Homo sapiens: one gene and its partner. The protein of the gene in region 1 interacts with the protein of each later gene in a pairwise test. Each region holds a gene or a part of one and is shown on either strand. Other genes may lie near its edges. The genes, in order: ZSCAN21 and GRAP2.

Region 1 (11,826 bases):
TTGGCCAGGCTGGTCTTGAACTCCTGACCTCATGATCTGCCTGCCTCGGCCTCCGAAAGTGCTGGGATTACAAGCATGTGCCACTACGCCCAGCCTATGCAAATAAATTTTAAATCTGTGTTCTCATGGCTGTAATCCCAGCACTTTGGGAGGCCAAGGCGGGCGGATCACGAGGTGAGAGTTTGAGACTAGCCTGGCCAACACGGTAAAACTCTGTCTCTACTAAAAATAGAAAAATTAGGCTTGGTGGCACATGCCTGTAATCCCAGCTACTCGGGAGGCTGAGGCAGGAGAATCACTTGAACCCAGGAGGCAGAGGTTGCAGTGAGCTGAGATAATGCTGCTGCACTCCAGCCTGGGTGACAGAGCGAGACTGTCTCGAAGAAGAAGAAAAAAACCTGCCCATGTCCTGATGGCTCTCCCAAGCCTCAGTCGTGGGTCTCCAGTGGACTGCAGAGCAGTTACACCTGGACTTTCTACAGTTTCATAGTATGTTTCAAACCAGATCCCACTTTCCCATTTATTGCCCCCTCTTAAAATTTCTGTAAACCTGTCAGGATCAAAATTTTGTAAGTTTTCTTTGATTATACTCCTCATCCTCCTCCATCTAACCAGCATCAAGCCTGGGCAGGTTCAGTAAAGATGGAGTGGAATGATACTGTTTTCAGAGTTGAGATTGTAGAGGAGATGGGATTTGCAAGTGATGGTAGCAGTAGCTGATACATGGCATATACTCTGTGTCAGCGTTGCCTGGCTCTTTTCCGAGTGGTTTTCATGTATTAATCAGCTGGGTGCAGTGGCTCACGCCTGTAATCTCAGCACTCTGGGAGGGTAAGGCAGGAGAATCGCTTGAACTCAGGAGTTCAAGCCCAGCCTGGGCAACATAGTGAGACCCAGTCTCTACAAAAATAAAAATTAGCTGGGCGTGGTGGCACACATCTGTAGTCCCAGCTACTCAGGAAGCTGAGATGGGAGGACTGCTTGAGCCCAGGAGTTGGAAACTAGCCTAGGCAATATAATGAGACCCCTGTCTCTCTGAAAAGAAAAAAATCCAATACTTGGCGAGGAATGATGGCCTACAGTAAATGAGGTAGAGCTGCTAAAATGATGAGCAGAGAAAGGGTGTCAGCAGACTCAGCGTGTGTTAAAATGAATTTCTTACACGAGATCTGAGAACCAAACACCTATGTTATCTCGGAAGGCCCAAATAGCTTCCCGTTCACTCAGACAATAAAGGATGAAGTGAGGGGAGCACCGGGATTGTTCAGTGACAGCTGCCTCAGCAGGGTTAATAGTAGGAGATTCTGCCACAGAACAGAGTTCCCTGTTATTAATGGGATGACTGGTCAACAGAGGCCAGGCGGCAGCACTGAGCTATCACAGGCAAAGTGGACACAATTACCATGATGGGCAACCAGGCCAGAGTGGCAACTAGGGTGATTTTTTTTTGAGATGGAATCTTGACACTCTGTCACCCAGGCTAGAGTGCAATGGCATAATCTCGGCTCACTGCAACCTCTGCCTCCTAGGTTGAAGCAATTCTCCTGCCTTAGCCTCCTGAGTAGCTGGGACTACAGGCGCACGCCACCACACCTGGCTAATTTTTGCATTTTTAGTAGAGACAGGGTCTCACCATGTTGGCCAGGCTGGTCTCAAACTCCTGATTTCAGGTGATCCACCTGCCTCAACCTCCCAAAGTGTTGGGATTACAGGCGTGAGCCACCACACCCGGCCTATTTATTTATTGTTTGAGATGGAGTCTCACTGTGTTGCCCAGGCTGGAGTGCAGTGGCGTGATCTCGGCTCACTGCAACCTCCACCTCCCAGGTTCATGCCATTCTCCTGCCTCAGCCTCCGGAGTAGCTGGGACTACAGGTGCCCGCCACCACGCCCAGCTAATTTTTTTTTTTTTGTATTTTTAGTAAAGATGGGGTTTCACCTTGTTAGCCAGGATGGTCTCAATCTCCTGACCTCGTGATCCGCCCACCTCGGCCTCCCAAGTGCTGGGATTAGAGGCGTGAGCCACCACGCTCGGCCTTATTTTTGTTTAAATTAAATATGAATTTAAAAAACAAGAGAGATGGGATCTCACTATGTTGCCCAGGCTGGTCTCGAACTCCTGGGCTCAAACGATCCTTCTGCATCAGCCTCCCAAAGTGCTGGGATTATAGGCATGAGCCACTGTGCACAGCCCACTAGGGTGTCTTGACCCACAGAGAACTGTGGCATTGACTAATAACCCTTGGTGTTCTTAACAAAAACTTTCAGCCAACAGGATAAGGCTTTGATTTGTATAAACAAAAAATCCCAAGAGTTGATGAGAAGGCTGATACCGGCTGTTACAATGGGAAATTGCAATCCTGCTGCTGCTTTCCAGATCTGAGCCAGTTCTGAGATCTGGAATCCATCAAGTTAAGGGGAGTCTGGGTTTCTTTGAAGACCTTCCAACTGTACCACGAGTATTATGCAATAAATATTTCCCCAAAGGACCTGTGGCTGTTCACTAGAGTAACGTACTAAGAAAACAGAATGCCCAGGCCTTTTGAGGCTTTTTGATACAGGATCTAGTATGACACGGATCTAAAACTTACCATTGCCCTCCAGACACAGGTCAGCTGATAAATGGAGTCCTGGCCCAAATCCATCTCAGTGGGCCCAGTGGGAACAGACTCACCCTATGGCCATGTCCCTGAGAAGATAATTGGGATATGTTTAGCAGGGGGACAGATGCCCAGCACATTGTTTACTTAACCTGTAGCTTAGGTCATAGGCAGAAGGGTCAAGTGGAAACTCCTGCACACCCTGCCCTTCCCCAGCCAATCAAAGTGGCAAGAAACAATACCACACCCTGAATGGAACTGAAGTGATTATTGCTGCCCTCAAAGACGCAAAAGACACTCTTTCTGTATGGCTTCTGTAAAAAACCGACGAGTTGTGGCTGATAATGGTTGTTTGCCACAAACTCATCCACAACAGCTGTGCCGGCACAGTTCAACATGGCCCCTGGCTCTTGGTATGCAGTTATTATCTAGTGAAAGCATTCGCTTTATTTTTTTTTTTTTTGAGACAGAGTCTCGTTCTGTCACCCAGGCTGGAGTGCAGTGGCGCAATGTTGGCTCACTGCAACCTCTGCCTCCCGGGTTCAAGCGATTCTCCCACCTCAGCCTCCCGAGTGGCTTGGACTACAGGCACCCGCCACTATGCTCAGCTAATTGTATCTTTAGTAGAGACAGTGTTTCGCCATTTTGGCCAGACTGGTCTCGAACTCCTGACCTGAGGTGATCGACCGCCTCAGGCTTCCAAGGTGCTGGGATTACAGGCGTAAGCCACCGTGCCTGACCCCCAAATCCAAATTTTCTAAAAGCTAAACCAGTAGGAATAGTTTTCTCCATCTGTAAGTATTCAATAACCAACACATCATTTGTTATAATAATAGTCCTGAGGCATTACAAGATGTTATAAGTTTATTCTGAATCTCATTCAATTGTGTTCAATGTGGCTCAATTCTTTACAAATTAAAATTCTTGAATATATGTTAAAAATTAAACAATCTTAATGTTTCTTCCTTAACTAGACTGGATACACGTCTGTTTAACTACGCAAAAGGTAATGCTGGCATGGCTTACTGGGACCCTAAGTGTGGCGAAGGGACTCTGCTCCAGTGAACTGGCGAGTGTGGAACCTCCTGACACCTTCTGAGGACCTCCTGCCTGCCATGTTGCTGTGGAGCTCGCACTCCTCAGGCATCCCCTGATGTTGAGTGATACAAACTCTATCACCGGAATCGATGCTGCTGCAATGACAAGACTTCTTTCTGGTTTTCAGATTCTAAAGTTTAAAACAACGACAACAACAGGAGCGCTTGAAAGTTACGGTGCTTCTCCCTCTCCAGTGTGGACTCGCTGATGTTTGGAAAGATTGGACTTGCTACAGAAGGTCTTTCCACAGTGATGACACCAGTAGGGCTTTTCCCCGGTGTGGATTCTGTGGTGTTTATTGAAGTTGGAGCTGTGGTTGAAGGCTTTCCCACACTCCTTACACTTATATGGCTTCTCTCCGGTGTGGAGTCTCTGGTGGGAGCTGAGGCCCGCATGCTGACTGAAGCTCTTCCCACATTCGTTACACTGATAAGGCTTCTCCCCAGTGTGGATCCGATAGTGACGAATGAGGCTGCCTTTCCCGCTGAAAGCCTTGCCACAATCTTTGCACTGATATGGCGCCTCTTCTGTGTGCATTCTCTGATGTTTAAGAAGGTCTGAGCTCTGCCCAAAAGCTTTTCCACACTTACAGTCATAGGGCCGGTCCACCAAGTGTGTTCTGTAGTGGAGGGTGAGGTTTGAGCTGTGGCTGAAAGCTTTCCCACACTTGGTGCACACGTAAGGTTTCTCCCCAGTGTGTGTTCTCCTGTGTTTGGTGAGATTTGAGCTATTACTAAAGGCTTTGCCACATTCAGCACATATATAACGTCTCTCTCCTGGGGTAGGTTTAGTAGGAACTGATTCTCTACCTTTCTTGGAGCCTGCCTCTTGAAGAGGGGGTTTTGTTCCTTTTTCATTTTCAAGGTTTACGCACTGCCTCTCTAAGCTGGCCTCAGGTTTATTGGCGATAATCACAGAAATTATATCCCCTTTGAGCCCCTCTGCTTCAGAACCTTTCTGCTCATCTGCTGATTCCTCGTGCTGGGTACTCAATCTGCAATCTGAAACAATAAGCAGATTAAGGATACTTCAGTTGTTTCTTGTTCTGAGGAAGAAACTGTTACCAGAGAGATAGAACCATCAGGTGAGACTGATGGTTTCTGAAGGGTGACTAAACAGAGCTCATGATAGCGCATAGATACAAGTAAATCAGCATCCAATCTAGTTTACAATACTGCACTTCTTTTTTTTTTTGAGATGGAGTCTCGCTGTCAGCAGGCTGGAATGCAGGTGACCTCAGCTCACTGCAACCTCCAACTCCCTGATTCAAGCGATTCTCCTGCCTCAGCCTCCAGAGTAGCTGGAATTACAGGCACGTGCCACCACACCCAGCTATTTTTTGTATTTTTTTTTAGTAGAGATGGGGTTTCAACATGCTGGCCAGGATGGTCTTGATCTCCTGACCTCAGGTGATCCGCCTGCCTCAGCCTCCCAGAGTGCTGGGATTATAGGCATGAGCCACCAGGCCTGGCCTCCATACCACACTTTCACACAATTCCCCACCCGAAGCTATTAAGATGTGAAGAGAACGTGGCTTTTTCTGCCAGAAAAACAGCTTCACATACAGAAGGCAAAATGCAGCATATGAGAGTGGTAGCCGGGCACAGCGGCTCACGCCTGTAATCCCAGCACTTTGGGAGCTGAGGCGGGAGGATGGCTTGAGTCTGGGAGTTCAAGACCAGCTTGGGCAACATAGGGAGACCCCATTTCTACAAAAAGTTAAAATAAAAAAATTAGGTGGGCATGGTGTGCCCCTGTGGTCCCAGCTACTTGGGAGACTGAATAAGAGGATCACTTAAGCCTGGAAGGTCAAGGCTGCAATGGGTCAAGACTGCAGTGAGCCATGATTGTGCTGGCCTGGGCAACAGAGTGAGACCCTATCTTTAAAAAAATATTTATTTTATTTATTTATTTTGAGACGGAGTCTCATTCTGTTGCCCAGGCTGGAGTGCAGTGGTATCATCTTGGCTCACCGCAGTCTCCGCTCCTGGGTTCAAGTGATTCTCCTGACTCAGCCTCCCGAAGAGCTGGGACTAGAAGCACCTGGCACCACGCCCAGCTAATTTTTGTATTTTTAATAGAGATGGGGTTTCACCATGTTGGCTAGGCTGGTCTCAAACTCCTGACATCAGGTGATCCACGTGCTGGGATTACAGGCGTGAGCCACCGTGCCCAGATGTTTTTTTTTTTTTTGAGATGGAGTTTTGCTCCTGTTGTCCAGGCTGGAGTGCAATGGTTCAATCTCAGCTCACCGCAACCTCTGCCTCCCAGGTTCAAGCGATTCTCCTGCCTCAGCCTCCCGAGTAGCTGAGATTACAGGCATGTGCCACCATGCCCGGCTTATTTTGTATTTTTAGTAGAGACAGGGTTTCTCCATGTTCTAGACCATAGGCTGGTCTAGAACTCCTGACCTCAGGTGATCTGCCCGCCTCAGCCTCCCGAAGTGCTGGGATTACAGGCATGAACCACCACACCCGGCCCTTTAAAAAAAAAAAAAAAAAAAAAAAGAACAGTTGAGCCTCACGCAGATTAAAAACAAGGGAGAATGACTGCTGCAGGGCCAGGGTTAAGGAAAATGACAAGGACAATTAAGGATGAGGCTGAGTGGCAAACTCACAAAAACCCATGTTCCCACAGCAGTTGAACATAAAAGCAATCAGAGGGCATTCTGACCATTTACAATCATTCCCGCCCCAGATCCGTATCAATCAGAATGAAAGCACGTGATCTCCAAGAGGGCTTCACGCTCATCATTTACTTACACTGGCTACATCTTGTAATTCAGTTATAAAGTGACGCTCACTATTAAAATCAGATGGAACCAGTTTATCTTTTTAGAACGCCTCACCAGGCAGTCACACCTCTTCAAAGTCCACCTGGCCATCCACATCAGGGAAAAGGGGAGTAAGAGAAATTCGCTCTGAAAAATGGGACCCCTTGGAGAACTGTTAGTCCTCTGAGGGTACAGAAGCCTGTCAGCAAGCTACCTTCTTCACCCGTTTCCCCTTCCCTAGGAACCGCCCTGACAGCTTCTCTCTCTCTGCCCAGCTGTCTATCTCCTTCCTTTGCTGACAGTGACTATCAGCTGCTTCCAGGCTCACCCTCTCCTCACCATCTGCTGGGGGTCAGAGCTTCAGCAGCTGAAGTCCTTCACACTCTCCATAATTAGCAATCGCTTGCCTACACACAGACTTCTCTTCGAGTCACTGGACAGCCATGGACTACATGTGTGGGACAGAAGTAACCTCATAAACTTTGTTTTGTTTTGAGATAGAGTCTGGCTCTGTTGCCCAGGTGGGAGTACAGTGGCATAATCTTAGCTCACTGCAACCTCCACCTCCCAGGCTCAAATGATCCTCCTGCCTCAGCCTCCCGAATAGCTGGGACCCCAGGCACTAGCCACCACACCTGGCTAATTTTCGTATTTTTTGTACAAATGGGGTTTTACCATGTTGCTCAGGCTAGCCTCAAACTCCTGGCCTCAAATGATCCACCTGCCTTGGCCTCCCAAAGTGCTGGGATTACAGGTGTGAGCCACCATGCCCAGCCAAAAGTTAACATTTTAAAAAATAGCTGAATGAGGCAAAAATTGAAAAAGAATTTACCAGGACTATTTATTTCATTGTCTTCCAGGCTGCACTGTTACTGTTGGGTAGTTTGTCATCAGTCTAATCAGCATTCCTTTGAGGGGGGTAATCCGTCTTTTATGTCTTGGTTACTTTTGAGACCCGGTCTCACTCTGTCGCCCAGGCTGGAGTGCAGTGGTGCAATCTCAGGTCACTGCTGCACCACAACCTCCACCTCCTGGGTTCAGGTGATTCTCCTGCCTCAGCCTCCCAAGTAGCTGGGAGCTGGGACTACAGGCGTGTACCAATACACTCGACTAATTTTTGTATTTTTAGTAGAAATGTTTTTTTTTTTTTTTTTTTTGACGGAGTCCTACTCTGTTGCGCCAGGCTGGAGTGCAGTGGCGCGATCTTGACTTACTGCAACCTCTGCCTCCCAAGTTCAAGCGATTCCCCTGCCTCAGCCTCCCGAGTAGCTGGGACTACAGGTCCCAGGGACAACACGTGCCACCATGCCCGGTTGAGATGGAGTTTCACTATGTTGGCCAGGCTGGTCTCAAACTCCTGACCTCAGGTGATCCGCCTGCCTCAGCCTCCCGAAGTGTTGGGATTACAGGCGTGAGCCACCATGCCCAGCCAGTCTGGTTTTTTTTTTATTTTTTGAGATGGAATCTCACTCTGTTGCCAGGCTGGAGTGCAATGGCGCGATCTTGGCTCACTGCAATCTCCGCCTCCTGGCTTCAAGCGATTCTCCTGCCTCAGCCTCCTGAGTAGCTGGGACTACAGGTGCATGCCACCACGCCCAACTAATTTTTGTATTTTTAGTAGAGATGGGGTTTCACCATGTTGACCAGGATGGTCTCCATCTCCTGACCTCATGATCCGCCCTCCTCGGCCTCCCAAAGTGCTGGGATGACCGGTGTGAGCCATCATGTCTGCCCTCTCCAACTCTTTCCGCCTCCTCTGGAACAGCTATTAAACATACACTGGACCTTCTCATCTGATCCCACACTGATGTCCAATGCCTGCCACCTTGATCTTTCTAAGTAGCATTTCAGATGACTTCCTTCCATCTACCTCTGTTTGCTAATCATGTCCTTCATTATTTAAAACAGCCATTGCATTCTTCATTTCAATGACTACAGTTTTCACTTTTAGAAATTCTATTTTGTTTCTGTCAAAGGTGCCTGTTTGTGTTTTTATTAACAGTTTCTTGGCTGGGCGTGGTGGCTCACGCCTGTAATCCCAGCACTTTGGGAGGCCGAGGAGGGCGGATCATGAGGTCAGGAGTTCGAGACCAGTCTGGCCAACATGGTGAAACCCTGTCTCTACCAAAAATACAAAAATTAGCCGAGCATGGTAGCAGAAGCCTATAATCCCAGCTACTCGGGAGGCTGAGGCAGGAGAATCACTTGAAACTGGAATGCGGAGGTTGCGGTGAGCCGATATAGCGCCACTGCACTCCAGCCTGGGCAACAAGACCGAAACTCTGTTTTTTTAAAAAGAGCTGGGCGTGGTGGTGTGCACCTGTAGTTCCAGCTACTCGGGAGGCTGAGGCAGGAGAATCTCTTGAACCTGGGAGGCAGAGGTTGCACTGAGCCGAGATTGCATAAATGCACTCCAGCCTAGCAACAGAGGGAGACTCCGTCTCAAAAAAAAAAAAAAAAAAAAGACTTTATGCAAAGCTTTCACAGCCAACTTCCCTTTCCTTAGGAGGGCCCAGCAGCTTTGTCTTCTGTCCCATCTGGGTACTAAAACCCAAGCCTGTTCCTGGCTCTGATAATCCTTCCACTCCACCCTCCTCTTTGTGTAATACTGCCAAGGGGCTACACCAAGAGATATGGAAAATAAAACTGACCAGATAGGTCTCCGGCTATTTTTATCTCTAATTACTGTGGCAACTCTGGGGAAACCCCAATTGCCTGGAGAGGTCTACTGTGTTCACCATAAACCATGAAGAATTTAGCTAACAGTTTAATTTTTTACTTTTCCTAGAAAATGTGATTTTTAACCGGCTCGAAACTCTGTTTCCATGATGGAGTTTCACGTTTCAGACACAGCAAGCATGGAGGGAGATTTCTGAGGGCCATGGACTCTTGTCATGAAATCACACCACACACATAAATAGTGGTCTACACCACCAACACGTAAGCAAAGTCCTGGTTTGAAACTATTAGGATTTGGAATAATATGCCATATTTTTGCAAACATATAATTAAACATTAACTCTGTTTCAAAGATTTAGTTCTAATCCTTCTGGTAAATGAAGGTACTTAAGAGTAGAACCCATAAAATAACAAAATAACATAGGGCCAGCTTGGGCAACATAGTGAGACCCTGTCTGTACAAAAAAATAAAGTTAGCCAGACATGGTGGTCCCAGCTACTTGGGAGGCTGAGGTGGGAGGATCATTTGAGCCCCAGAGATTGAGGCTGCAGTGAGCTATGATCACGCCACTGCCCTCCAGCCTGGATGACGGATGGAATCCCTGTCTCAGAAAAACACACAAAAACACCCCCACAGGGGATGACCATTTATGGCCTGAGATTATTCTATAAACCATAATATATGGAGATTTGAGCTCAGGAGTAGTCACCTAATACAGCTTTGACTTGTGAAAAATGCCCCACCTCTTTCCATAGCTTCAGAAAGGAGGTTGCCAATTATTTCCCATTTGCCCTTCTCAGATCCATTCTCTGACCCGCCCTGTGCCCCAGGAAGCTGACCCTAAGGGCTGCACTGTCTTGTCTTTCCTGCCCTCTGGCTGCCAACTGAGTTTGTCATTGGGGAACAAAAGCAGGAGATTTAAGGGCAGGAGGAGGGTGCAGTTGGGGTATTTATTCCGTTTTCTCCTCATCCCACAGCAGGGCCTACAGCCACAACTTCTATCAAGTGACCCCCTCCTCCATGACTATAGCTCTTACCTGATTCTGGTAAGAGGGTCCCCCTCTGTCCCTTTAGGCTCACAGGGAGTAACAGCTTTTCACTGTTGTCTGGTGCAACACTATTCCTTATTGGTTCATTTGAAGTCTCTACACCTCTGTTAACAGTTTCTTTTTTAAACTCATTTCAATTGACCCTTTAAAAAAAATTATTTGTAATACTCAGACTTCAAAGAGAAACTGATCCTTTAAGAGTGATCCATTCCCATGCTAGGGCCCAGGTTAAGACAGCCTTACTTGGGGGAGGAAAGGGGACTATTTCCACCCAGTCAGCCCAACTAATCAAGTCAATCTATGAAATCACCTCACAACCAAGAATTACTAATTATTCTGCTTCTCCAACCACAGGGGCCTGGGGCACTGAATAGGAGTCTAATGGGTGGTCCTCACCTCGGACCTTTCTTGGATCTTGAGCGAACTCCTGCTCCTCACCAGACTCTTGGATGTACAGGGGCCCCCAAGACTCGTATTTGTGACTGGTCTCCAAGGGCTGTGGCTGCATGCTGCTCGGGGATTCCTTTGCAGTTCCTGAGGAGGATATCTTCTCCCACACCGGTTTCTGTTCGTTTGGAGGAGTTGAGACCTAGAGACAATCAGGAATGGCTAGGTTTGTGCATGGCTCACTTTAAGACCAAGAATGAAAATCCCAGTAGAGCTACATAGAACCTCTAGGAAAGAGAAAAGGAAAACACCCATCCCATTCCATTCCCAAGGCTAAAAGTTAGTTTAGGATGATAGAGAAAAATAGGAGGAAACAAGGTCTAATTCAGCAGAAATTTCCATTCAGCAAATCTTAATGTATGGACAAACCCTTGTTCCTGCCTAGAATGTTACGCTCCCAATCTCCTAGAATAACAAAGGTCTCTCCTGCCTACCTGGTGTCCTGGCTCATCCAGTTCCCGCTCCAGATCTTCGAGGAGAGTGACAGCCTCTTCAGCGCTCTCCGGGCAATGCTCCTGCACCCAGGCCTGGAGCTCCTGGGGCAGGATGGTCAGGAACTGCTCCAGCACCAGTAGCTCCAGGATCTGCTCCTTGGTGTGGATCTCGGGCCTCAGCCACTCACAGCAGAGCACCCGGAGTTGGCTCAGGGCCTCTCGGGGTCCAGGGGTATCATGGTACCCAAACTGCCTGAAGCGCTGGCGGAACATCTCCAGGCTAGGAAGGTACTTGCCTTTCTCTTCTTTCTCCTCGACTTTTACCATCAGAGGCCCCACCTGCTCCTGTGGAGGCCTAGGGCCCAGAACTGGGGCCATGCCTAGTACCTTGGTCATCATGTAAACTCCAGAAACAGCCTCACCAAAGATGGGACTCTGTGGGGCAGGAATATTCGTTCCTTTGGGTTTCCAGTTCTTTAGGGCCACAAGTTAAACCTAAGAAAATATAGTTACCAAAAAATAATCAAACTGAAAAGTGTTTTTGGGTCTTTACAGCCATACCTTTAACACAAGAAATTGTGGAAATTATGTCCACCATAAAACTACCATACAAAAACAACTGCTCAAAATCTTTCTGGAATGAGCTGGGTACAGTGGCTCATGCCTATAATTCCAGCACTTTGGGAGGCTGAGACGGGTGGATCACATGAGGTCAGGAGTTTGAGACCAGCCTGGCCAACATGGT
Region 2 (13,059 bases), on another chromosome or scaffold:
GGAAGCAGAGGCAGGAGGATCGCTTGAGCCTAGGAGTTTGAATCTGCAGTGAGCCATGATTGTGCCACTGCACTTGAGCCTGGGAGACAGAGTGAGACCCTGTCTCAAAAAACAAAAAAAAGATGCAATGATAAAGGCAATGGTAAAGGACTATGATAAAGATGATAAAGAACTAGAACTGAGAACTATGAGAACAGGGAAGGCCTGGCACCAGACTGAGATCAACAGACTGGACGGTGCTGGCTCAGCCCCAGGCCTCCCCAAACATTCCATCACCTCTCGTTGATCTGTGTGTGCATTTTTGTTTTGTTTTGTTTTGTTTTTTGAGACGGAGTTTCGCTCTTGTTGCCCAGGATGGAGTAAAATGGCGCAATCTCGGCTCACTGCAACCTCTGCCTCCTGGGTTCAAGCAATTCTCCTGCCTCAGCCTCCCAAGTAGCTGGGATTACTGGCATCTGCCACCATGCCTGGCTAATTTTTGTATTTTTAGTAGACGTGAGGTTTCACCATGTTGGCCAGGCTGGTCTCGAACTCCTGACCTCAGGTGATCCACCTGCCTTGGCCTCCCAAAGTGTTGGGATTACAGGTGTGAGCCACCGTGCCCAGCCAGATCTGTGTGGTTTGAGTCTCTCCTGCCTCATCTCCTCCATTGACCTCTGTCCCAAGGCCTTTCCCCAGGGATCCCAGAGAAGGACAGTTCCCATACCCCTGCCGCCTGGAGCTGCACTGGGTCTGTGTGTCTCCGATGCATGAGGGCCGCATTCATTTCACTGCCCAAGCCGGTGCCACAATGCCCATCATTTATGTCAAGGCTGCCTCCTCGGCGTTCCTAGAAACATACAACAGAAGACTGGTCACCCCACTGCCAGGACATCTCCCACCGGTTCCCCCAGTGCCTTGCTCAGATGCCATCCACAGAGCCGGTATATTCCAGGAATACTTACTGATAATGACAATAAACCCTCCACGTTGAGGAGGACCTAAGGTCTAAAGGCACCTTAGATTCTGAAGGCAAAGAAGGCAAAGGCAGGTTTTATTTATTCAGTCAAGAAATATTTATCAGGCACCTACCATGTTTCCAGTAGCAGACACAAGGGAAATATAGCTGGAAAGAGAAGGTCTCTGGCTTCATGGAGCTTCCATTTAGAGGGGGAACCATGCACATTTAAGTGGTAAGTGAGCAGAGAGAAGAAATGTCTGTATCTGCCCGGGAAATCAAGGAAGGCTTCACAGAGGAGGTCATGCTTGAACTCCAGCTTAGAGGGGTAGGACTGCCCAGGGAGGGGCTCATCAGGCAGAGAGATCAGCATATAAAACGCCACAAAGGCATGAGAGGAAACGCAATGGACCATTCGGGTAACTAAGGCAGCGTGGGGGGTTGCTGGAATGTGTGTTTGCACGGGGAGTTGGCAGGGAGGCAGCAGGGACGAGGCTGGGGAAATAGATTCTGGCAGCTCACAAAGGACTTTGTGTGCCCTGCTAAGGAATTCAGGAATGATGTTATCTGGCCGTATTGTCCATCTCAGTAAGCCGCCTGAAATCCCATCGGGAACAAGGGTGGAGGGAGATAAATAAGTAATAAACAAGGCTCTGTTGTGGGTATTAAGCCTTTTTCTCTTGTGGATCTGACAGCCAGATGGGCTAAGGGGCATGAATAGATTTGGAATTGTGCTGATAGGAAAATGAAGCAATTGTTTACTGGGTCCTCAGGGGAAGTGTGTGTGTGTGTGAGTTTAAGTGTGTGTGTGTGTGTGAGACAGTGTGTGTGTGTGTGTGTGTGTTCAGGTGGGAGCCATTTAATTCATAGAGATGTCTTTGCCAAGAACAGTTTCCCTATTTCTGCCATTTGGGGGGGTCCAGGGTCTTCATCATGAACTCTCTGAGAACTCAAGAGGCTGGGCCAGGCCTGGAGGGGAGGCAGGTTCTCCTTTCCACCGTACTGTGCCCACTGCCTTCTTTCCAGATACCTGGTGGAAATGGTGGTGCTGCAGATATCGCTGCTGTGGGGGCTGCTGCAGCTGCTGGGGCGCTGGGGCATATTGCGGAGGCTGTGGCTGGTGCTGGTGCTGCTGCAGGGGAAGGGTCGGGGGGTGATCCGACAGCTTCCGGTTCATCGAAGGTCGGATTTCTTCTCCCACAGCCCCACTGAGGTGTGGGCCTCCCTGGGACCTCCGGTCCAGGCTGTTGCCCCGGTGACCCTGGGAGAAAGAACAGAGATGCTGCAGATGCATCCTCCTCTCTGATCGTCTGGCCCTACCCTACCCTCGGGCAGTTGTTCCCAGACCCTGCTCATCTGGCTCCAAGAAATAGCTGGTGGGGTGGGGGCAGCTAAAAGATAATTGATGCTTTAGACCTTCACATTTTCCAAAGTGGCCTCTGCATTCTCAGATCCTCCCAGTTTTAGGAGTGCAGGTCTCTGGTTCACAGACTAACACTTTTTGCCTGGTAGCCATTTAGTCCATTTCCAGGGCGCTCGTTTTTTCTCTGTGTAATCAAGCTGAAATATTCCATTTTACTGATACAATGCCACCCCTTCTTATCACATGTTGCCACACCACTGGACAATCTACCCTCCAGATAAGCTCCACTGTTGACTTTGCATGATTTTGAACTGTCATTTACAGCCTGGTGATAGAGACCCAAACAGCAACATTCTTGCAACACCATGGGAACCAGGCCTGCCGCCGGGCTGGACGTGGGGGAAGAAGTAAGGCCTTTTTCCCTAATGTTACAACAACCTTACAAATCAGAAATACCGTATTGTTAGTTTCATTTAACAAACAATTATGTAGGACCCTGAGGGCAGCATATACCAGGCACTGTTCTAAGCGCTTTACAAATATCAACTCATTTAATCCCATTTAATGCAATTTTATATTGCTTCTCTGAATGCCCATCCTAGTGAGTTAATACCTCTGTCCGTTTCCTGGTTAGAGTGATTCACAAGGTCTTGGCTAGCCTTTGTTTTCCTTTCTGAACTTCTGTGTGCATTTGGTGGTAACTTCTTTTCTCCTTTGGCAGTAACTTCTCAGGCTTAAAAGCAACTAGGGACTCGAAAAAGGAGGATTTTCTTGACTTCCCCAAAGCACACATTGCTTTCACAGTCTCAATATCTTTTCAAATAACCTGTCCCTAGGATTTCAGCTATTCTAGTGAATGCTTCTTCCTATGATACCTGTCTCTTATAACCATGTTATTTCCTTTGAAAAATAGTTCATAAATTGGTGTGTGTGTGTGTGTGTGAGTGTGTGCATGTGTGAATTTACTTATGGGAGGCAAGTTAACATGTTCTTAGTGTTTAATATGGACCAGACTCTGGTAGTGCTTAGCTGTATTAAGTCATTTAATCCTCACAACAGCCCAGTGAGGGAGGTTTTATTGCTCTCTCCATTCTACAGATGAGAAAACTGATACTCAGATGGTTTCTTAACTTGGCTAGGTAATACAGGTAGCTAAGCGATTAAAGCAGGATTTCATACCAGGTCTGTCTGACGCATTTCCTTTTAAAGCAATAGTCTGTATTGCAAACAGTTGCAACAGCAATAATTCCAAGTGCAGTTTTCTCCTCCCATGTCCTCCCTACCCCCAATCCCATCATAAAACTCCACATGCTGATTTAACTCCTGAACTCTAGGCTGTTCCCTAATGTCCCTGTCTGTAGCACCCCCAACTCCTTCATCCTTGGGCAACTCTTGAGCTAGGTTGAAAACTTTGGTGTAGCAATGTCTATGAATAACAAAAAAACAGCACCTGTGGTAAGAGCTGATGCTTGCTGAGCGCAGTGTGATGAGGAATGACATGAGGCGTGGGATACATTATCTTCTCCAACCTTCACAGCCATTCTGGGAGGTAGATATTACCATTGTCCCTACTTTATGGATGAGGAAACTGAGGCGCAGAGAACTTTCCAAAGTCACACGACTAGGAAGTGTTAAGTTGAGATCTGACCTCAGAGCTCTGAGCTCTGTCTTTCAGTATACTCAGAGGATCTACCCATCCTATGCATTTTTCCTGGTGGTTCATGTGAGAACTCAGGCTGCCTAAAATCTCTAGATTGGGGTCGACTGGATCTGGAGCATACCTGGTCTTCTCGGGTTCTGTCTCTAAGGAAGATCTGCTTCTGTCTGGAGATGGAATTTGTCCTGTAGTAGTCTACCAGCTTATTTAGGGATGGAAACTTCTCAGTCCACAGAAAGTAATTACCCTTGTTGTCTCGCATGACCTTGAAGTGTTGAACGTCATCCTCATGCCTGGAGATCAAGGCAAAACAAAATTGTATGTTACACGGTGATAATGTCACCACCTCCAGGCTGCTCACATCTGGGATGGTGGAGTTCTCTTTGAGCAGGAGATGTAGATATGGATGACTCACTCATCACTGGGCAGGTGGGCCAGCCCAGTCAGGCTTCGGCAGGAACTTTGTAGGATGGACCACTTAGGATACAGGCTATGCTAGACGGGATTTACATCAGCAGAAGGTAATCAGATGAGCTAAAATTTGTTTTGGACACTGGAACTAACCTTTTACAAGAAAAGCATGTTCCAAGTGACTTAACGACAAAGAGATCAAAGACCTTTTCACAATGTTTATTCGCAAGATGTCAACAGGGGTATTTCAAGCTCCTATTATCTTTCTGTTACCAGAAATTCTTTGAACCATCTCCTTTAAGCCCATAAGCTAGCACTGGCAGGTAAGAAGCTACTCTCTTTCCTAAGAAATATGTCACATTTTTTCTCTATGTAATAAGGATCTCTTGATCTTGGTTTATGTTTTGCATAAATAAGGTTACAAAGTGTTTTCAGCTTTTGGTGAAATAGCTTTGTATGAAATACAGAGTTTTTGTTTGTTTGTTTGTTTTGTTTTTTTGAGATGGAGTCTCACTCTGTCGCCCAGGCTGGAGTGCAGTGGTGTGATCTCTGCTCACTGCAACCTCCGCCTCCCAGGTTCAAGCGATTCTCCTGTCTCAGCCTCCTGAGGAGCTGGGATTACAGGCACCCACCACCAAGTCTTTAGTAAAGACGGGGTTTCGCCATGTTGGTCAGGCTGGTCTTGAAGTCCAGACCTCCGGTGATCCACCTGCCTTGGCCTCCCAAAGTGCTGGGATTACAGGTGTGAGGCACTGCGCCCTGTGAAATGATAGAGTTTTAATTGGCAAGGATGTTGGAGATTGTTTAGCCTTACTTCTCCATTTTACAGATGAGGACACTGAGGCTCACAGAGGTGCAGGGGCTTGGTCAAGGTCACTGCTGAGTAAGGGCTGAGGCCAGAACCCTGAGTCTCTGACTCCAGTCTAGTGAGCTTGGCCTGTCACGCCACCTAAACATGATAACTTCTTTTTTCTTTCAAATGAGTTGGTTTAATTTCAGGTGATACAAAGTTTAGGGTAGAACAACGACCAAAGAGCAGATTCTGGCAAGATTCTGAGCTGGTTTTACTTTAAATTCACAGTTATGGTAGGAATGACTTAGTGAAAACAACTAAAGAGATGATGAGCCACTGGAAGATTTTTTTTTTTTTTTTTTTACAAAAGTTTATTCTTAAATGTACAACAGCTCCAAGACGACACTTAATTCCAACTATAGGTGGCAAAAGATATTATAGGAGGGAATAGAGAGGTTTAAATACGGATGAAATAAAGGGTCACCGTCTCCTTAGGCACAAGGAACAGCTTATTTTTTGCCAGATTTCTTAATTCCACCTGTGGCCAGAGGCCCCTTCCCCACGACCTTCGCTTTTAGCACCTCGAGTTTCTTCTGCTCCTCTTTTTGTTTCTGCTTGAAAGCCTTCTCTTCCTCGTCCATCTCCTTGGCCTGCTTCTTGGGCTGTTTCAGTGCCTTCTTCTTGCCACCTTCGTGGCTGGACATGGCGCCTGCCGCCCCTTCCCCAGACCCTGCCACTGGACGATAACTTCTTTTAGATCAGCACCTTTTGTTGCCAGTCTGGACTCACAAGTGATGGGACACATTCGAACCAGGGCTAGAGAAAATGGATTTTATCCATCTAGGAAGGGTGGGCTGAGCCTTTACCATTAGATCCAGTTTTACTTCATTGCCAAGTCATTCTCTTTTGGATGTAAAGTTTATTTTTCAAACAGACATACATTTATATCTAAAAATAAACTGGCACTAGTGATGCCAATTGCCTGATGTAAAAGAAAGGTCAAGAATTTTAAAGGGTCTCGGAGAGTAAAGATACCTCTGAGAGTAAGTGGAGGTTTCTTTTTGAGTCAGAGTCTCGCTCTGTCGCCCAGGCTGGAGTGCAGTGGCGTGATCTCTGCTCACTGCAAGCACCACCTCCCAGGTTCATGCCATTCTCCTGCCTCAGCCTCCCAAGTAGCTGGGACTACAGGCGCCCGCCACCACGCCCGGCTAAGTTTTGTATTTTTAGTAGAGACGGGGTTTCATCGTGTTAGACAGGATGGTCTCGATCTCCTGACCTCATGATCCGCCCACCTCAGCCTCCCAAAGTGCTGGGATTACAGGCGTGAGCCACTGCGCCTGACCATGGAGGTTTCTTAGGGATGGATTTAGGGACCTGTGTTAAGAAGGAGATGGAAATTCTGACCCTCAATCTCATCTTATGTGCTGGGATTTGCTCATAGCTGGGTGAAGCCACAGGTTGTACAAGTGGCCTCTTGCTTGACTGATTTCGGGTGGTAATCAACATATTGCAATCACTTTGTGGTCTTCCCCTTGGTTTTGGCCACCAACAGATACTTTCTTCATTCTAAGACAACATGGATCAACTCAAAGTCATTATCCTTCACATCCAGGTGAGGAGGAGAAAATATTCTTGTGATATTATAATTTTTCATCCACCACCTCAAAGAACTCAGAGTGTGAAACATTGACCCTTTTACTCTCATAAGCTGTAAGGATGGGTGTGAGGGTTGCAGCTGGTTATCTGGGTCTACAAGGAGAGGATGGCCTGACCATTGTCTCAAGCCTGAAGAGGAACAAAGGAAAGGATGCGACTCAGGGCGCTGGACTCCAAAATCTGGTGTTTCAGGCCCTTAACAAATGCTGAGTGATAGAACTACAATTAGCTCTTAATTATCTGTGCCCATGACAGATGTAAAAATAATTAATAATGATTTTGCTTTGGAAAATATTATACTACATTTCTGCAAAGACGTGATAAGGATTACGGTAATTGTCACCATAACTAGAAGCTTCATCGCCTGAATATCAGGGGAAGACTTCGGTAGAAGTCAAGGCCTACTGTTTTGTAGAACTCACTTTAATTAAGGAAATATAAACCATAGTTCTGGGTCCGGGCACAGTGGGTCGCGCCTGTAATCCTAGCACTTTGGGAGGCTGAGGCGGGTGGATTACATGAGGCCAGGAGTTCAAGACCAGCCTGGCCAACATGACGAAACCCCGTCTCTACTGAAAAAAACCACACACACACAAATTAGCCAGGCGTGGTGGTGCGAACCCATGGTCCCAGCTACTCAGGAGGCCAAGGCACGAGAATTGCTTTGAACCTGGGAGGCGGAGGTTGCAGGGAGCCGAGATTGCGCCACTGCACTCCAGCCTGGGCGACAGAGCGAGAGTCTGTCTCAAAAAACCAACGAAACCACAAAAACCATAGTTTCTAGCTGAAAAAGCCAGAGTCATCTTCATGCAAACCAAAGGCCCAAGAGATACCCCTCAGTCTAACAAATTACTTGGTCAAGTTTATGATGGGGTAAAGAGGGGAGGCTTAAGAAATAGATTTGACTTGTAATATATATACACGCATGTTAAATATATGTATAATTGTTTTTTCTAATAATATATGTATATAATATATGTAAATAATTTTTTTCTCTTGAGACAGGGTCTTGCTCTGTCACCCAGGCTAGAGTGCAGTGGTGCGATCGATCTTGGCTCACTGCAACCTCAACCGCCCAGCTCCAACAATCCTTTAACTTCAGCCTCCCAAGTAGTTGGGACCACAGGCATGCGCCACTGCACTGGGTTAATTTTTTATTTTTAGTAGAGATGAGGTCTCACTAGTTGCCCCGGCTGGTCTCCAACTCCTTGGCTTAAAGCATTCCTCCCAACTCAGCCTCCCAAAGTGCTGGGATTAGAGGCATGAGCCACGGCGCCCGACCCTGACTTGTAATATATGTTAATGGAGCGAAATTTCATTAATTAAGACCTAACAAGATTAGAATTTGTGATACATCAATATTGGCCTGAACTAAAGTTAACCATTCTCCAAGCTATGAAAATAAAGTTTTTACTGAAGAAAAGAGTTTAAGCAAGATTGCAAGGGCAATGCTAAAGAGACCACTTTAAAGGTATGTATGCATACAAATTGTTGACCTGTTATTTTTAAGTCCTTCCTACCTATCCTTTCAAATATCCATTCTTTCTAAACAGCAAAGTGGCCACAGTTTATTACTTGAGATTGGATTTCTGTCCTTAAAACAAAGCTTTATGCCTTTCAAAATATATTGAATAAACCAGATCGGTATTTCCTGCCAATAACTTGACAGTAAGGTTTTGCTGTACTTCTCCTGATCTGCTAACAGCATTATATTCTTGCAGTTTCACATGTGGTGAAGTCTGATACGTGACTTGCGATCCTCAACATGCTGACCACACACAGTGTGTTCCGAACTGGGCTTCTGAGTTTGGGGCTGTGTAATGTCTACGCGTGGACTGAGTCACTTCCTATGGGTTGCTGCACCTTAGTGAGATTTCGCTGTTACAGTCCTCCCCCACTCCTGGCCCTCTGTTCTGTGGTTTTCGGTCTTGCTGTACTGTACTGTGTTGAAGTAGCCTTTCTTTTTGTTCAGCTGCCTACAACTATACATGTATTTGTTGGGGCTCAGAAAACGACACCCCTTGGCATGCTGAGTGCTTCGAACCAAAGGAGATGGGAAGGTTTCAGAAGCAGCCTTGGAAGCAAAGTCTTCCTTTGGCCTTCTCCTGCCCTCCTGTCTCCCGCTCCTCTTTCTCCCCCTGAGTGAGTCATAGAAATTAGAATTCCTCTTCCCCACAGTGGGTCAGAGAGACTAGAAGGGTCACTATGGGGGAGGCCAAGGCAGGAGGATTACTCGAGGCCAGGAGTTTGAGATCAGCCCAGGCAACACAGTAAGACCTAGTCTCTACAAAGAAATAAGTTAAAAAAATATTAGCCAGGTGTGGTGGTGTGCACCTGTATCCCCAGCTACTTGAGAGGCTGAGGTGGGAAGATGGCTTGAGCCTGGGACACAGAGGCTGTGGTGAGCAATGATTGCGTCACTGCACTCCAGCCTGGGCAACAGCTGTCTCCAAAAAAAAAAAAAAAAAAGAAGACTTGGGACAGGCCTTGTTCAGTTTCCTACCTCAGTCTGTTACCTTAGATCAAACCCCCTTTGTCCAATCCCATTTCTACAGGGCTGTCTGTCCTTTGACAAACCTAAGCATAAAAATAGACGGCTTTCCCTGGGTCTTGGGTCTTCATTTCTGAAGGCTTCTGTGTCACACAAGTCTTTGATTAAATAAATGTGTCCACTCTCCTCTTGTTAACCTGTCTTGTAGGAGTGTCAGCTGTGACTCCTCTGATGGGCAAAGAAAGGTGCCACAACTTTTCCGCCCCTGTATATCCTACAGCAGTGACTTGAGATTTCTATTTTTCTCTGACTCTTCTTCAGATATGCATCAATCATAAAAGAAAAGGTTAAGATTTAAACCCCCAGATGGATCTGGACAAGTGGGAGTTCTCCTCCTCCTATCCCTCCTTCCTTCCACAAATACTCACTGAGTGTCTCTCTTTTATGCAAGACACTGTTAAAGGCATAAAGATGAAGTAGAGGAAAATCCTGCCCTTCCAGAAGCACCTGGGCTAGAAGGGGAGGCAGATGGGCGTAGAAATAATTTCAAACACACACCAGTGTTCTAAAGAGTGGTGTGTGCATGTTTTGGGAAGGCACTGGGAGCAGCAGGTTGTGAAGCTGCTGCCATGCTTGGCCCCTAGGCCACCATGCTTCTGACCATTGGGTCATATTCCAGAGGTCCCTTCATGGCTTCAGCATTCTGTGAGGTTAACAGGCCGAGAAGGGCCAAGGCAGTGTCAGGAATGGTCAGTACCTGACAGAGATGGAGAAGTCCCCTGGGGAGCTCTGGCTGGCCCGGATGATGAAGAAGCCAACCTCCTTGCCCATGAGTAAGTTCTCTGCCTGGTGTCGAGAGAGGCCTTCGTGAAACCATCTGTGGGGGCGAGATCAAACAAAAGGATCAGGATGAGACACAGGAGTGACAAGAGGGAGACGTGGAGAAGAGGTGACCCAGAGGGAAAGAGGCTGGGGACTCTGTACAGTAGGGAGCAGAGAGAGACCAGGTGCTGTTTGAAATCAAACCAGTGCTCCAGGCAGCTTTCAGGAAAGGCGAGGGAGCATTCCCCTTGATTCACCCTCTTTGTTCCTTCTCTCCAGGAGAAGTCTCTCTCCAGCCTGGGAAACGAATCATGGAAATGTGTCGCTGCACCAAAATGGGGCAGTGTGGGAGTGACTCACTGCAGGAAGCAGCCGCCTGCCGGCAGCTGCGGAAGAGATAGACCAGAGCTGCGAGGACAGAGGATGCACTGGGGAGGGAAGGGAAGGCTTCAGGCACTGGAGCCAACCAGGTGCAGCCGGCTGAGCAGGGCCTGGGGTGCTCATGCCTGCCCTGAGGTCTCAGTGGCCTAGAGGTTCCTCCCTGGGTATTAAAGGAAAGTTACAGCCCAGGGCGTCACGTTACCTAGGCTGGCATGGAGCACAAGGGGGCTTTGCTCAGTGTGCCTAGCAGAGGCTGCAGTGTTCCTAGGGAGTCCAGTGTACATGCTTGGAAATCAGCGAGGCTGGCAGCCGCCAGAGAGCGGCGTCTATACAACCAGATCCTGGGCCTGCCCCAAAAATCCAGGCTGGGAAATAATCTTTACTGTGGAAAAGAAGAAACAGGAGAAATTACTCTTTTAGCAGAATGGTCAGGGTGGCAGCCCCTGGAGGTACAGCTGCATACAGCGTGGCATGTATGAAATAGGTCAAACACTTACACAGGGCCAGGCAAGCTGTGGCTGCAGCCTCAAAGCAGGAGGCCAGAGACCTCTCTCCACCACAGACAAGCAAAATGAGTGTCTGCAATCACTCAGCGGCCAAAGGTGGGACTGTGTCACATTGCTTCAAGGTGGCTGCTCTAATTGCTGTCACCAGAAGGCTCATACGCATGTTCCTTTAAGATAAAAGCCCGTCAGGCCTTGGCTTTGGATTCCTTTGTGAGCAATTCTCTGTGCTTTCTAGAATTTGGGAAACTGAGACATAGGTAGCAGGAAGGATGTACTTACTGGAGACTGAGTCCCCCACTGGGACTGAGGGGGAAGTTTGGCTGTGCTCTGAGAGGGCTGAAAGCAGCAGTTTCTGGTGGCCTGGAGATTCTGCCTGAGTATTTGCCACACAATTCTACAGGGCTAAACAAGAGGCCACCACACACACCACTGCCACGTGTGGGAAATGTAATGGGGATGGGAAGAGGAATGGAGTATGCACCACAGCAGCCATATCGCAAAGGAAACATTTCAGAAGTGAAGGGGATTTAGGAAATACACATTTGTCCTCTGACTGCAATCTGATAGGGGGCTTCTTTAAAGATTTGTAAAAATCACCACACATTGCATATTAGACATGAGTGGTCATGGTTTCAATAATACATATTCGTTCGTTCATTCATTCATTCATTCATTCAACAGCTTTACTGAACATCTAGTACTGTGCTGGGCCCCTCCTGGGCACTGGGGACACAGTAGTGGGCAGAACAGACACACACCCCTGCCCTCAGGGAGCTTACATTCTAGTCGAGGGGGACACACACAAAAGAACAAAATAATTAAGATCTGAAGCGTGCCAGATGATGGTAAGTGCTGTGGAGAACATGAAAACTGAGAGGAGAGATGGGGCGCTGTGGGTGGGAGATTAATGTAAGGTATGGTGATGAGAAAGACCTCACTGAAAAGGAGACATTCTAAACCTATAGGGGACTGGGGAGTGGGAGGAACCAACACAAGAGACTGAGGAGGAGAAGCCAGGGCAGTGGGAGGACAACCGGAGGAAGGACGTCCTGGAGCCAAAATGAAAGAGGTGTTCCAGTGGGAGGGGGGATCCCCAGGGCAGGTCATGCTGAGATGACCCCTGGGAGCTACAGCCCATGGGGAGCCTGGTGGGAAGGGTCGGGAGATGAGGAGTTGGAAGTAGCAAATGCACACACTCCTTTTGAAGAGATGGAGTGGCAAGTGGAAGGGGATTTGGGATTAAGAATTTTCTTGATTTATTTATTTATTTAAATTTTTTTTTTCTTTGAAACAGAGTCTCTCTCTGCTGCCCAGGCTGGAGTGCAGTGATATAATCATGGTCCACCACAGCCTTGAACTCCCAGGCTCAAGCGATCCTCCTGCCTCAGCCTCCCAAGCAGCTGGGACTATAGGCGCATGCCACCACGACCAGCTAATTTTTAAAAATTTTTTGTAGAGATGGGGCTCGCTATGTTGCCCAGGCTGGTCTCAAACTCCTAGCCACAAGTGATCCTCCTCCCTCAGCCTCTCAAAGGACTGGGATTACAGGCATCAGCCACAACAAAACCCACCTGGCCTCTGGGTTTGGTTTTGTTTGTTTGTGTTTTGGTAAGTTGGGAGAAATTGCAGCGTGTGTGTTTGCTGACAGGAATGATCCAGCAGAGAGGGAAAGGAGGTTGACGTGGAAGAGAGAGAGAGGAGAATTTCTGCTAGAAGCAGTGACAGTTCCTTCCAGCCAGCTGCAGGAAAGGCCGACTGTTTGAGCACACTTGCAGGAGGCAGGTGGATGCGGTGGGGGAGGGGGGTCTGGGAGCTTCACTTCTGGTGGCTTTCATTGTTCCAGAGAACCTGGAATCAAGGTCACGGGCTAAGAGTGATGCACGGAGGGGCTGAAGGTTTGAGGAGCACGTGGGGTATGCAGAGGTCACCTAGCAGATTCCTGGGCAGCATCAAGGGTTCCGTCAAGGTCAGTGGTCATTCTCTTGGTTTGGTGGTCAGTTCAGGTTTACCAAGACTGGTGCTCTTGCACCTTGCTGGAGTCA

The links.
Region 2: the proteins of ZSCAN21 (region 1) and GRAP2 interact in binary tests that used the Homo sapiens proteins (3 or more experiments, as listed by UniProt).

What each region holds. Positions count from the first base shown.
Region 1 is NC_000007.14:100,056,661-100,068,486, reverse strand, and holds the end of ZSCAN21 (zinc finger and SCAN domain-containing protein 21), read right to left. Parts: intron 11,577-11,826; 5' UTR 11,481-11,576; coding exon 11,082-11,480; intron 10,790-11,081; coding exon 10,597-10,789; intron 4,700-10,596; coding exon 3,870-4,699; coding exon of another isoform or gene 3,836-3,869; 3' UTR 3,700-3,835; coding exon of another isoform or gene 3,575-3,699; 3' UTR 3,447-3,574; downstream 1-3,446. UniProt on the Homo sapiens protein: Strong transcriptional activator. Plays an important role in spermatogenesis; essential for the progression of meiotic prophase I in spermatocytes.
Region 2 is NC_000022.11:39,957,181-39,970,239, reverse strand, and holds part of GRAP2 (GRB2-related adapter protein 2), read right to left. Parts: intron 10,186-13,059; coding exon 10,066-10,185; intron 9,844-10,065; exon of another isoform or gene 9,321-9,843; intron 6,321-9,320; exon of another isoform or gene 5,866-6,320; coding exon of another isoform or gene 5,671-5,865; exon of another isoform or gene 5,335-5,670; intron 4,251-5,334; coding exon 4,082-4,250; intron 2,199-4,081; coding exon 1,968-2,198; intron 830-1,967; coding exon 707-829; intron 1-706. Other genes in the region: TMA7B (translation machinery-associated protein 7B), read right to left, coding at 5,671-5,865. UniProt on the Homo sapiens protein: Interacts with SLP-76 to regulate NF-AT activation. Binds to tyrosine-phosphorylated shc.